Homo sapiens: one gene and its partners. The protein of the gene in region 1 purifies or fractionates together with the protein of each later gene. This does not show direct contact. Each region holds a gene or a part of one and is shown in the gene's direction. Other genes may lie near its edges.

Region 1 (3,651 bases):
AGGTCTCTGCTGAAATGTTGACATGGAGGAATAATCGTATCAGTAAGACCAATAGCAGCCTCACTTCCTGCTTTTTTGCTTTATTTTTCTCCATGGCATTTTTACCATTTGACACAATTACAAATAAACAAGTAAAAGATTTTATGTCCCACATGCCCCCAAGAAGATAGGCTTCAAGAGGGCATGGATTTTCATTTCTCTGTTCACTGCTGTCGTTGGTAGTGCCTAGAGCACAGCTGTTGGGTGAGAAATAATTCCAGATGGCCGCACTGAAAACAAGGAAGGATGGTGCGTAGAGATGGGGCTGGGACTGGAGGCAGCCCCATGAAAGTTGTTTTCATCAGGCACAACTTTATGGGTCTTGGTCAGGGTTTTGTTTTTTATCCTGAAAGGAGTGGGCAGTCACTGCATGCTATAAAACACAGTGTGAAATATCTTTGGCTACAGAGCCAGGATACTTGGGGGAGGGCAAGAGTAGGATGGGGAGGGGAGTGAAGCTGTTGTAGTAGTCCAGGTGAGAGATAGTGGGGTTGTGGTAAGTGCAGTGGGAGTGGAAGGGACAGACATGCAGAAAGTCAAATTAATGGGATGTACAATCCTTTGGATGCCATGGGGAAGGAGAGGGATCTCAGGAGCCCCACCCAACTTTGGATTCTGACTTGCTCTTTACAACCCAGCCATAGCTAAGTAATAATGCCTTGGAGCCTCTCACCTTATGAGATTTTCAAAGGTTATTTTTAAAAATAAGTAAGGACTATCTTCATTATGTAGGTAAAGACAGTGACTTCTAAAGAGACTAAACATACTCCAAATAGATACTTATTCGTTGTTTACAAATAAGGAGGATATTGTGTTGGCTCCTACTCTAGAGAGAGACACAGTCTAGTTTAGAAAGATGTTGCATGTTAAAAATGAATTAGTTTTTCATCATCCTTGGTCTCCACAGAAGGACAAGAGTAAAAGGCTACCTGCCACTCTCTGCTGGCTGAAATACAGTTCAGAAACAGTAAGTGTGCAAAAACAATTCAGAATGCAAAGTCCTTGCCCCAAACAGAATGCACGTTTCTTGGGCCCCCTCATTGAGAGTATAATTCCCCTTGACTTACACCCCAGTTTCCAACAAGCTTGTGTATCTGATTTGTATTTTACATCAAAGCGTAAAGAGTTTAGAGGAGGAGATGGGTCTGGGAGTTAAGAATGGCAGCGTCAGGATGTGACCACTGACTTCTTGGTCCTGAGGAGAAACTAAAGCTGTAGAAACCAACACACACTGAAACCCAAGAAGCTTAGCGCTCCAGAGACGAGGAGTCTAAAAGGCAGCCTTTCACAGCCTGCAGGGGCGTGTGCACACAGAGTAGGTTGGGTATTGCAACACAGCAGTCTCCTATAATGCATGTCTATTAGCATGTCCCAAGGCAGTAAGAGGATTGTAATTGATGCTCATACTCTAACTTGAAAAGGTCCGGTCACTAGTGTATGTGAATGCCTCACATGTAATATGTACTAAACAAATGGTAGATTCTTTTAACAATAATTTAAAAAGACTTGTCAGTAAAAATCATTCAAAAGTATCTTGGAAGCTTTGAAAGAGTAGATTCTGTTTTCTGGAAGGTTCACTTATGCGGAGACCTCAGTTTTTAGGGGGATGTGTGGATCTTGAGGCCTATTGCTAACTTTTGGATATCTGGTTCTTTCATCTCAAGGAAGATGGCTGTCTTATCTAGGTGAAGGCACTAATAGATGTGTCTTATGACCTGAAATCCAGAGGATAAGAGGGGACCTTTGAAATGATTTCTACGATGATAGAGTCAGAATTTTATAGGAGCTTGTCCCTTTTATTCTTTATTTTCATAGGTCATGAAATGAGAAAGTTTGAAAAGCTAGATTTTTTTGTTTGTCTTTTAAGATTGGCCAGTCTGAAGTTTACCTCATCAGTCCTGACACCAAAAAAATAGCATTGGAGAAAAATTTTAAGGAGATATCCTTTTGCTCTCAGGTAAATGGAGATGGGTTTTTTTATTCAATTGCAATGGAATTTTTAAATGAATTTCTATAATATCTATCATGTAACAAATGCTAAAGGTTACAAGGTGTATGTTTTCTAAGTACTGTACTTGATTTGTGTTTCGCTTTTCTTCTTTGCTTTGGTATGTTAAGGTAAATTATGAATATAATTTTGAAATTAAGAAATTTGCTCTTAGCAACAGTAATGGACAAAATAGATCTACTTTTAATTTTCTCAGTTATTGGTAGTAATAATCCACAGTCATGACTTCCAGATGCACATGTGTGTGTCTTTGTGCATATTACACATATATATTTACACATTTCACACAAATATATCTTTTTATTAGATATATTTCTACTTTACAAAAATTTGTAACTTTTTTGGGTACCAATTGTCAGTATTCTCCCTTCAAATATAGATAGTGCTTATCTTTGACATATATATTTACACATTTCACACAAATATATCTTTTTATTAGATCTATTTCTACTTTACAAAAATTTATAACTTTTTTAGGTACCAATTGTCAGTATTCTCCCTTCAAATATAGATAGTGCTTATCTCAGAGTACAGTGTCTACTTGAAAACTTTTTTCTTGATAATCTTCCAGGTGTTTCATAGAGGGATTTTGGAAGAATCTATCAATTAAGATTAGCTGTGCCAGTTTTACTCAGGATCTTCCTAACAAATATGAGATCACTTAAGGTTATATTTGCTTTTTTTTTTAAACTCTGGATTTTTCATTTTCATAATTGATAAAATATGAAAATGTCAGTGTTGATTTATAATGTGATCTACTTAAATATTCAAAAGGGACTTTTCTGCAAAATGTGAAAATAAAGAATGTTCTTTACAGATTGAATAGGGAACCATTTACAAAGAAAAAGCTTTGCTAAATCATATTTCCTTAAGTGGTAGCCTTATGCTTAACTTGCTACTGGAGAAGATTAATTGAGATGGCAAAGCATGTTAATGATTGCTCATTTATTGGAAAATATTTGGCCTGAAAGTGAGATTACCCATAGAGTTTTTAATCCTGATTTGCTGCTATTTCTGTTGAAATATGAATGTTAAATGTTTACATTTTTGTGTGATAGCTTTATAATTTCCTAAAGAGTGTAGTTTACAAGTTTATATGATTACCTGAACATTAAGCTATCAGCACTCACATCTCTGCATGATGATGCTTTCAGAATACATTGATGTATTAATATTTATGGCAGACGTTTTATCTGTATTAAGGTGCCTCTGATAGCTGATGATTTTAAAACACATTTACATATTAATATTTATTAAAAATAGCTCTTATGATACCATGGTAGAGCCTTGGCCTAATATGTTTAAAAGCTCCTCTACTCTGTGTGCATGTAATTTTTGACTCTTTCTTTATTCCAGTTCACTTCAGTATTTACCTACTTATTTTAGGAATACAAATATATTTTAAATATTTTTTTAACCTTTGGGTGTGTATGTGCTTAGTTGTGTTTCTTCATGAATCTCTGGTCTGCCTTTGATTTTTTGAGTGGTTTTTATTCTTTAATACCTATGTCTCAAACAAAACAACAAACAAATACTAAAATGAGCACTAAAACTTGAATTTTCAGATCTTATTTTTCTTATTGTTGTGGGAGTAATCAAAGGAA
Region 2 (3,651 bases), on another chromosome or scaffold:
GTAGCTGGGATTACAGGCATCTGCCACCATGCCCTGCTAATTTTTTTTTTTTTTTTTTGGATTTTAGTAGAGACACGGTTTCACCATGTTGGCCAGGCTGGTCCCAAACTCCTGACCTCAGGTGATCCTCCTGCTGCGGCCTCCCAAACTGCTGGGATTATAGGCGTGAACCACCGTGCCTGGCCTCCTCTCTGCTTTTGAAGCTTCCACTCCACTGTCACCTTCCTTGATTTTAGTGATTTGCTTATGTGTTCCCCACCAATCAGGTTGCCCATCTGTTGAGAGCAAAGCCCATGCCTCTGATGCTGATGTTGCCTGAGGCACCTGGTGCCACGCCCCCCGCATGGTAGGACCTGGTGCAGTCTCTGTTGAGCTGAACTTTTTTACATGGAGAGTGAGAACCAAAGTGGCAGTCAGTCGAGTCCCTGAATCCATTTCAGCAAATATTTAATAAGCATCTATCTACTGGGTTTTTCTAATCACACTGGGTCCTGAAGGAAAGTGTAACTTGTTTGCATGTTCTATTTCAGAGGGCAGGAATCATGTGATTTTAGAAAAGGTTTCATGTTAGGCGCTTAACATCCCATCCTTGGGGTATTTGCATTTTTAGGCTTTAAGGGGAATAAACTTCACCTTTGTGGAAACAGTTGTTCCCCAATCTTGTCCACTTTAGGTAAGATGTAGTGAAGAATGCAAGTATTTTGGAGTTTGAGAAATGTTTTTTCTGCTTTTGTCATGAAATATACCCTTGAACACCTTCCCATTTGTGGGGACGTTAAATACTATAGGCAGAAAAATGAAGATACGAGCCCTGGCATGCGAGGACTGCGTGGCAGTGTGGGACGCGTGCTTGAGCCTCACTTTCTTCTCTGGGAGATGGCGGTAGGCGGGGCCGTGGAGAGCAGTAGTGGGACAGAAGGAGCTGAGTGCTGGGAGGGGCGCAGAGGGGAGACTGTTCTGGTCAAGGAATTGAGGTGGAGGCTGAAGGTCTTGTTCTTCAGGCCTTGTCATGTGCAATGGCCTAACTGCCACCAGGGGACCCTCCCTCATTCTGTCCCATTGGCTGCTCACATAATCTTTAATGCACCCTGGTCCTAGCTGTCCTGGGCCTCAGACCACCCCAGGAACTCCCTAGTGGTTGCAGTGTAAAGTACACATTCCTTTTGTTCATTTCCTTGGTCCTTCCACCTTATTTTCTTTTTTTCTTCTTTGACACAGGGTCTTGCTTTGTTGCCCAGGGTGGAGTGTGGTGGTGTGATCATAGCTCACTGCAGCCTCCAACTCCTGGGCTTAAGTGATTCTCCTGCCTCAGCCTCCTGAGGAGCTGGGACTGCAGGTGTGCACCACCACATCTGGCTCCAGTCCTTCCAGGTCTTTAAGCCTGATCGCTGCGTTTCCTCTCGAGTCCTCTCCACTGCACCTTTTCTCAAATCCTGCCAGTGCCCCCTTACCTTCTGTGGAATCAATTCCCTCTTATACTTTTCTTCCAAAAGCAGCCCCAAGGCACGAGTGGTCATAGTGGTGCCCTCAGGTGAAGCGAGGCTATTCCATGCTTGTAAACATGGTGAGCACCCTGCTGAGCGGGCTGGCTTCTTCGGGACTCTTCTCCCTACAGCTGGAGTCCAGGCTCCCCAGTAGGAAGGAAGGCCTGGGCGGTGTGGCTCGCGCCTGCAGGCTCTGTCTAGAAGGCCTGACTCCATCGAGGCCTCAAGTGCCCAGACGCACAAGAGCCAAAGCACCAGGACTGCCGAGGGCTGGGAGAAGGGAGGTGGGAGACGTGGAGTCCACATCTCTGGGCAGTTAAAGTTCAGTAACCGAGCAGCCACCAGCTGTGCCCTGTGGACCCAACAAGAAAGAAGCCCTACCCGCGGCTGTCCTGGCAGAATGGAGCCCTCATGAGAGCCCAGCATGGGAGGCCAGGCCTGGTTCCTGCAGTCGGGTAGGGGGAGGGGGAGGGGCAGAAGTGGCATGTTCCCAGCTTCTTCTGGGATGAGCACATCTGCTCGGCTGCTTCTGTGTCCCACAGCCACTCCGCAGCAACAGAATGATGCTCTGGTTCCTTCTCTCCCCGAGGCTTCCCTTTTCCTGGCTCTGATGATTCTTAACTCTGTCTCTTTAATGTTCCCTGGCCCATGTGTCCACAAGTAACCAGGCCCTTTCCTGTGGCTCTTACCTCCTCCCCCTGCTCTGTCACTGGAGTTGCATTACTGATCTGCCTCTTTGGACTTTAAATATTCTTCCGGTCATGTTGTGTCCCCACCCGGACAGTGTCTCTGGCCTTCAGCTGTCTTCTTGCTTTGCTCAGGACTCAGTGGGGACCCCCTTCCTCTCCTGAGTAGGGTTAGTTTCCGATGCCCAGGGCCTTCTGCAGACCTGTGCCTGCCATCTTGGGCTCTGGGTTTGTGCTCCAGCCAGCCTGGCCTCCTTCCTCCTCCCCTCCTGTGACTACACTCCTTCCTCTCCCCAGCCATCAGAGCCTGGCATGGCTTTCACCTCCTGCCGGAAGTCTTTCTGTATCTTTCCTGTCTCATAATGCTTGTCTGTACAGGCCCAGTCCTCGGTTCACATGTGCATATGTGATTGGAGGGAGGGAGAGAGCGTCGTGTGTGTAAGTGCACCATGTGTGTTGGTGATCTTGGCATGTGGCCTGTTTCCCTGGCTGGGGGAGGAGCCCCTTGCTGGGTCCCTTGTTCCTTGGAGGGTGTGGAGCCCCTCACACTCGCACACCTGATGGGCCGATTCCCCTCGGGCAGGTCCTGGCCCTCCAGCCTGTGCAGCGGAAACCTTTCTGCTACCCCTGTTCTGTCCTCTCGACCCCTGACCTGCACACTTGCCTCCTCAGCCCGTGCCCCGCATCATGGTGCAGTCAGCCAGCCCGGACATCAGGGTGACCAGGATGGAGGAGGTGAGTCTGTTGGGTCACGGGTGGCCACCCCACCTACAGCGAGCAGGTGGCCCTGATGCCGAAACTGTTGAGTCCACACCCACAGTTTTTGATGTTAGCATTCCTGTTTTGGTAATTAGTTATAATATAGGTCACTGCCTTCTCCCTCTCTATTTTCCTTGTTATACTTTTCTATTTTCAACTTGTTAATCATATGATTGCTAAACTTTTAGGTGCTTGACTGCTAATGTAGTCTGCTGCCTTAATAGCCCACAGCTAGGCAGAGGAGATTTCTATAAACAGAACAATCTCCTTCTTCTAAATGTTTGCTTAATTCTCAGTTTTACATTTCATTCTGATTCATGATATCAGCGTGAAAAGACGAATGCTAAGCTGTGGAGAAAATAGTCTCTTATAATCTCCCACAGATCAACAGCACTTCTAATCTTATGAATAGCAAATCTATTTTCTCCCACTGCGCTTTCATTCTCTTAGGAAATGCTGTATCTTCTTAGGAAAATTTTCTTTATTAAAACAACAGCAACAGAGGCACAATCATTAGAAAGAATATTCAGATCTCCGTGAATTTACTTCTATCTGAATGACCTTTTTACCCCAGTGCACACTGGGCATTCACGAATTTGCTGTGGCCGGGATCGGGGTGCCCCCTCCCCTGGGAATGGTGCCGGTCTCTTCTCTGAGGCAGGTTTGAGTGTCCCTGGTCAGCAGGATGGTCAGAGCAAGCCCCTTGCCAGTGAAGGCAGCAG
Region 3 (3,651 bases), on another chromosome or scaffold:
AGCACTAGGCCAGACAGCAAAGGCCGCTTTGCAAGACAGCTTCACTTCCTGTTAGAGTCAGTTTCAGTCAGCCCCAGATTTGCACTTGACTCTGTCCCTGTCTTACTGTGTGGCCTTGGGAAAGTTTCTTCCTTCCTTGGAACTCTGGTCCCCTTTCTCGGACTAGCTAAATAATCTTTGAGGGGTGTTCAAGTCACCATATGTGAAAAATGGCTCTTGCAAAACAGGGAGTTGTTCTGTATCCAAGGATTTCCTAACTGAGGCTGACAGTTAAGTCGGTATCTCTCTCTTTCTCTCACCTTCCAATAGGACAGCCCTTTCTTGGCGGAGCACAAATATCCCACTTTACCTGGGAAGCTTTCAGGAGCCACGCCCAATGGAGAGGCTGCCAAATCTCCTCCCACCATCTGCCAGCCTGACGCCACGGGGAGCAGCCTGCTGAGGCTGAGTGAGTGTCCAGCCCTGGTGCTGGTGGCCTCTGAGCAGTGTCCTTGGCACTTTCAATGATTGTATAAGATCCCTGCACCTACCACCACAATCCACAATTGGAGAATGGTGGGGTGGGTGGCTGGAACAAGTTGTACCTTGGGGTGGTCCCACCTCCCCAGAGGCTCCCCCTGGGCGAGCTGTTTTCTAAGGTCAGCACTCTACAGTCTCAGCAAACCAGGGTGTGTGTATCCCCTACTTCTTTTCGGCTGCAGCTTTTCACCCTTATTTCCTCTCTTCTTCTCTTCCTCCTCTCGAACTCTTTCCTGTCCTTCCTAGCATTGTTTTCCCTCCTCTCAGACACCCCCTTCTACCCTTCCTGCCCCTGGTGCTTCCTTCCTCTGTCATTCTGATCTTCTCTCTCCTGTCTCCACCTTCTTCTCTGCAGCTTCCCTATTCCCCGTAGGAGGGTATCATGCACTCCAAGTGGGAGCATTTCCTTAGGCAAATGAAGTCAGTGGCCAATGGGCAAGGGTGTCGGTCTGCAGGTATCCTTTCGGTGCGTAAGACCTGAAACCACAGAGGCTTTTGCTGCTTTTCATTCAAAATAAGCCATCTTTCCCCACCAGCAGCAAAAGATTCAATGGCCCCGGAAGGGAACATTCTGGTCCTGGCAGGGTTCTTCCTGAGGCTCCTCAGCCTCAGCTCTTCCCTGAGCTGGCCCATGCATTGGCCTAGTGAAGGCCAGCTCTGCCGTTGGCTGCAGGAACTTCAGATAAACCCTTGAATGAGTGTGTTCTAGTGACACTCAAACTGGACTCACTATGGCTTCAGATTGTTCTAGTCTGAGCTGAGTGAGCCCAGGCACCTGCACAAGAGCTGCCTGTGGCCTGGAGTATTCAGCCCCTGCTGCTGTCCCTTCCTTTCCCTGGGTGTGGACACCTCAGCCTGTCACAAAGGGGCCCCAGGAACACTTGGTCCCCTCACATGAAACCTCTTCTCAGTGTCAGTCACCACTCACCCCCTCCTTCTCCATGGGATTATTTTTCTTTCTGTTTGAGTTTTTCTCTCTTGCTCGATGACACTCTTTTGTTTATTTCTTTGCTTCCCCGTAACTCTGTTGGGCTGGACTTTGGCCTCTCTTGTTTCTTCATGTGGCTTCTCTGCTTCTTGGTTCACTGGAGATCGTGGCCGGAGTGTCAGTGCCCCCGTATTAGGTACTGTACCCATTCCAGGTGAGGTGGAGAGTGAGAATGCCTTTGTTTCCCTACCCTAACCCTCCCCTTCACCAGCACTCAGCCAGGGACCCACTACTGCCTGCGTTCCTGCATCTCCCTCTGAGGAAAAAGAAGCTGCTTGTTGGAATAATCCACAAGTACTTTGGACCCCAAATCCTTAAAATTAAAGACATTAGCTCACCTAGATTTGAAATATTGAGCACACTAATTTCTCAGCAAGGAAGCCTGGAGTCCCCACTAGTCTCTGGGATCTTGGTATGGAGTTCTGCCCTGAAGGCAGAACTGGGCAGATTCTCTGGACTCCCACTGAAGGGGAGGGCCCAGGCTTGGGGAAGAAGGGTTCCAGGGGTCACATCCTTACATTCACATTCATTGCCTTCTTCCAATCTCAGGAGACACAGAAAGTGGCTGGGACGACACTGCTGTGGTCAATGACCTCTCATCCACATCATCGGGCACTGAATCAGGTCCTCAGTCTCCTCTGACACCAGATGGTAAACGGAATCCCAAAGGCATTAAGAAGTTCTGGGGAAAGTAAGTTGGTGCCGTTGATCCTAATTATATTGCTTAGAATTTTTCTTTTTGATTGGGCAAAGAGTCTATGTAAGCCCCTGGTCCAATAGACACTGAAACAGCAGTCAAAACAGAGTGTTCATGTTCAAAGAGAAGAATCTGAGATATTTTCCAGGGCCAAGAGAAGGAGAAGTATGAAAGACACCCATTGAATATATCCAGTTGCCTTTCATGTCATGCATCCTAAGCACCCACCCATTCCACACACCCTGAACATAATCTCTGCAGCTTATATTACATTGGATCTGGCACAGACACAGATGAGACTGTATTCTCCCTTCTTAGGAGTCAGTCTGTTTTAAGAAATCTTTGAAAAACCTTTGAAAGCCAAGTACTTGCTGGCCCAACTGATCCACTTTGTGACATGAGGCAGAAACTGGGGCCTCCTACAAGGCATCAAACTTTGCTTTGACTTCTATGGCAAGTGACCAAATCCCAGAGGCAGGATCCGAATTGAGGCTTGAGTCTGGCCAAGGAGCTGCGACAGGTTGTGATCCTTGATCTCTGGGAAGGTACGGAGAAGCAGTGCTGCCGAGAGTCCCTGTGCTGGCCTGCATGGCCTTGCAAAAGAGGAAGCACAGTGACTGTAGGCTTTCTGACTATTCCATGACCGTCTCCATGGATTCTTCTCCATGCAGAATCCGAAGAACTCAGTCAGGAAATTTCTACACTGACACGCTGGGGATGGCAGAGTTTCGACGAGGTGGGCTCCGGGCAACCGCAGGGCCAAGACTCTCTAGGACCAGGGACTCCAAGGGACAGAAAAGGTAAGGCTTGACCCACTTTCCTTTGATCTCCCTGCTCTGAAAAAGAAGTATCTCCCTTCAAACCTGCATGGGTGAATCTTTACTCCTGTGTTTTGCGGAAACCCCTTTCCATATTCTCTTCCCCAGTCAAGCAGTCCCTACAGTACGTCATTTCCAGCACAATATCTCCTAAGTTCTGAGTTACTCAGCCAAGATCAGTACTCCTGGAGGTCTTCCACAGGATTGGAATGTGACATTTTATATCTAACCAAAAGGCAAAAAGTAAGCTGTAACTCTCTTCAGTTTAGTCACCTCAAGATTGCCATATACCAATGCAGAGTACAGGTAATTACTGGTTATGATATGTATCATTCAGATGTCCGTTCTCAGAAATAATATAGTCTAGATTCCAATTAAGGAAGAAAAGCATTTCCCTAAATGCATCATATTGTTTGCAGACCTGCATCCCCTGCGGAAGGGAGTCTTAGCTTATTTTGCACATGGATATGATACTGCACTTCCCTGGCTTGCCAAACAGGTTTCTAGTCTTACCAGGTCCTCCTCGTGCATGAGACCTGGGACCTTTCCAGATCCATTTATTCTTCGATGAGTATCCCCAGACTCCAGGAAGCTTGAAAAGAAGCATGAGAATGTGTAGACCATTAGCT

The links.
Region 2: the proteins of TBC1D1 (region 1) and KIF13B purify together in Homo sapiens (affinity purification with mass spectrometry, with the first as the bait; one large-scale study listed by BioGRID). This does not show direct contact.
Region 3: the proteins of TBC1D1 (region 1) and PPFIBP2 purify together in Homo sapiens (co-immunoprecipitation; one large-scale study listed by IntAct). This does not show direct contact.

The regions. Positions count from the first base shown.
Region 1 is NC_000004.12:38,016,448-38,020,098, forward strand, and holds part of TBC1D1 (TBC1 domain family member 1), read left to right. Parts: intron 1-946; coding exon of another isoform or gene 947-1,006; intron 1,007-1,906; coding exon 1,907-1,996; intron 1,997-3,651. UniProt on the Homo sapiens protein: May act as a GTPase-activating protein for Rab family protein(s). May play a role in the cell cycle and differentiation of various tissues.
Region 2 is NC_000008.11:29,074,535-29,078,185, reverse strand, and holds part of KIF13B (kinesin-like protein KIF13B), read left to right. Parts: intron 1-2,842; coding exon 2,843-2,905; intron 2,906-3,651. UniProt on the Homo sapiens protein: Involved in reorganization of the cortical cytoskeleton. Regulates axon formation by promoting the formation of extra axons. May be functionally important for the intracellular trafficking of MAGUKs and associated protein complexes.
Region 3 is NC_000011.10:7,639,423-7,643,073, forward strand, and holds part of PPFIBP2 (liprin-beta-2), read left to right. Parts: intron 1-309; coding exon 310-448; intron 449-1,610; coding exon of another isoform or gene 1,611-1,643; intron 1,644-2,056; coding exon 2,057-2,198; intron 2,199-2,875; coding exon 2,876-3,004; intron 3,005-3,651. UniProt on the Homo sapiens protein: May regulate the disassembly of focal adhesions. Did not bind receptor-like tyrosine phosphatases type 2A.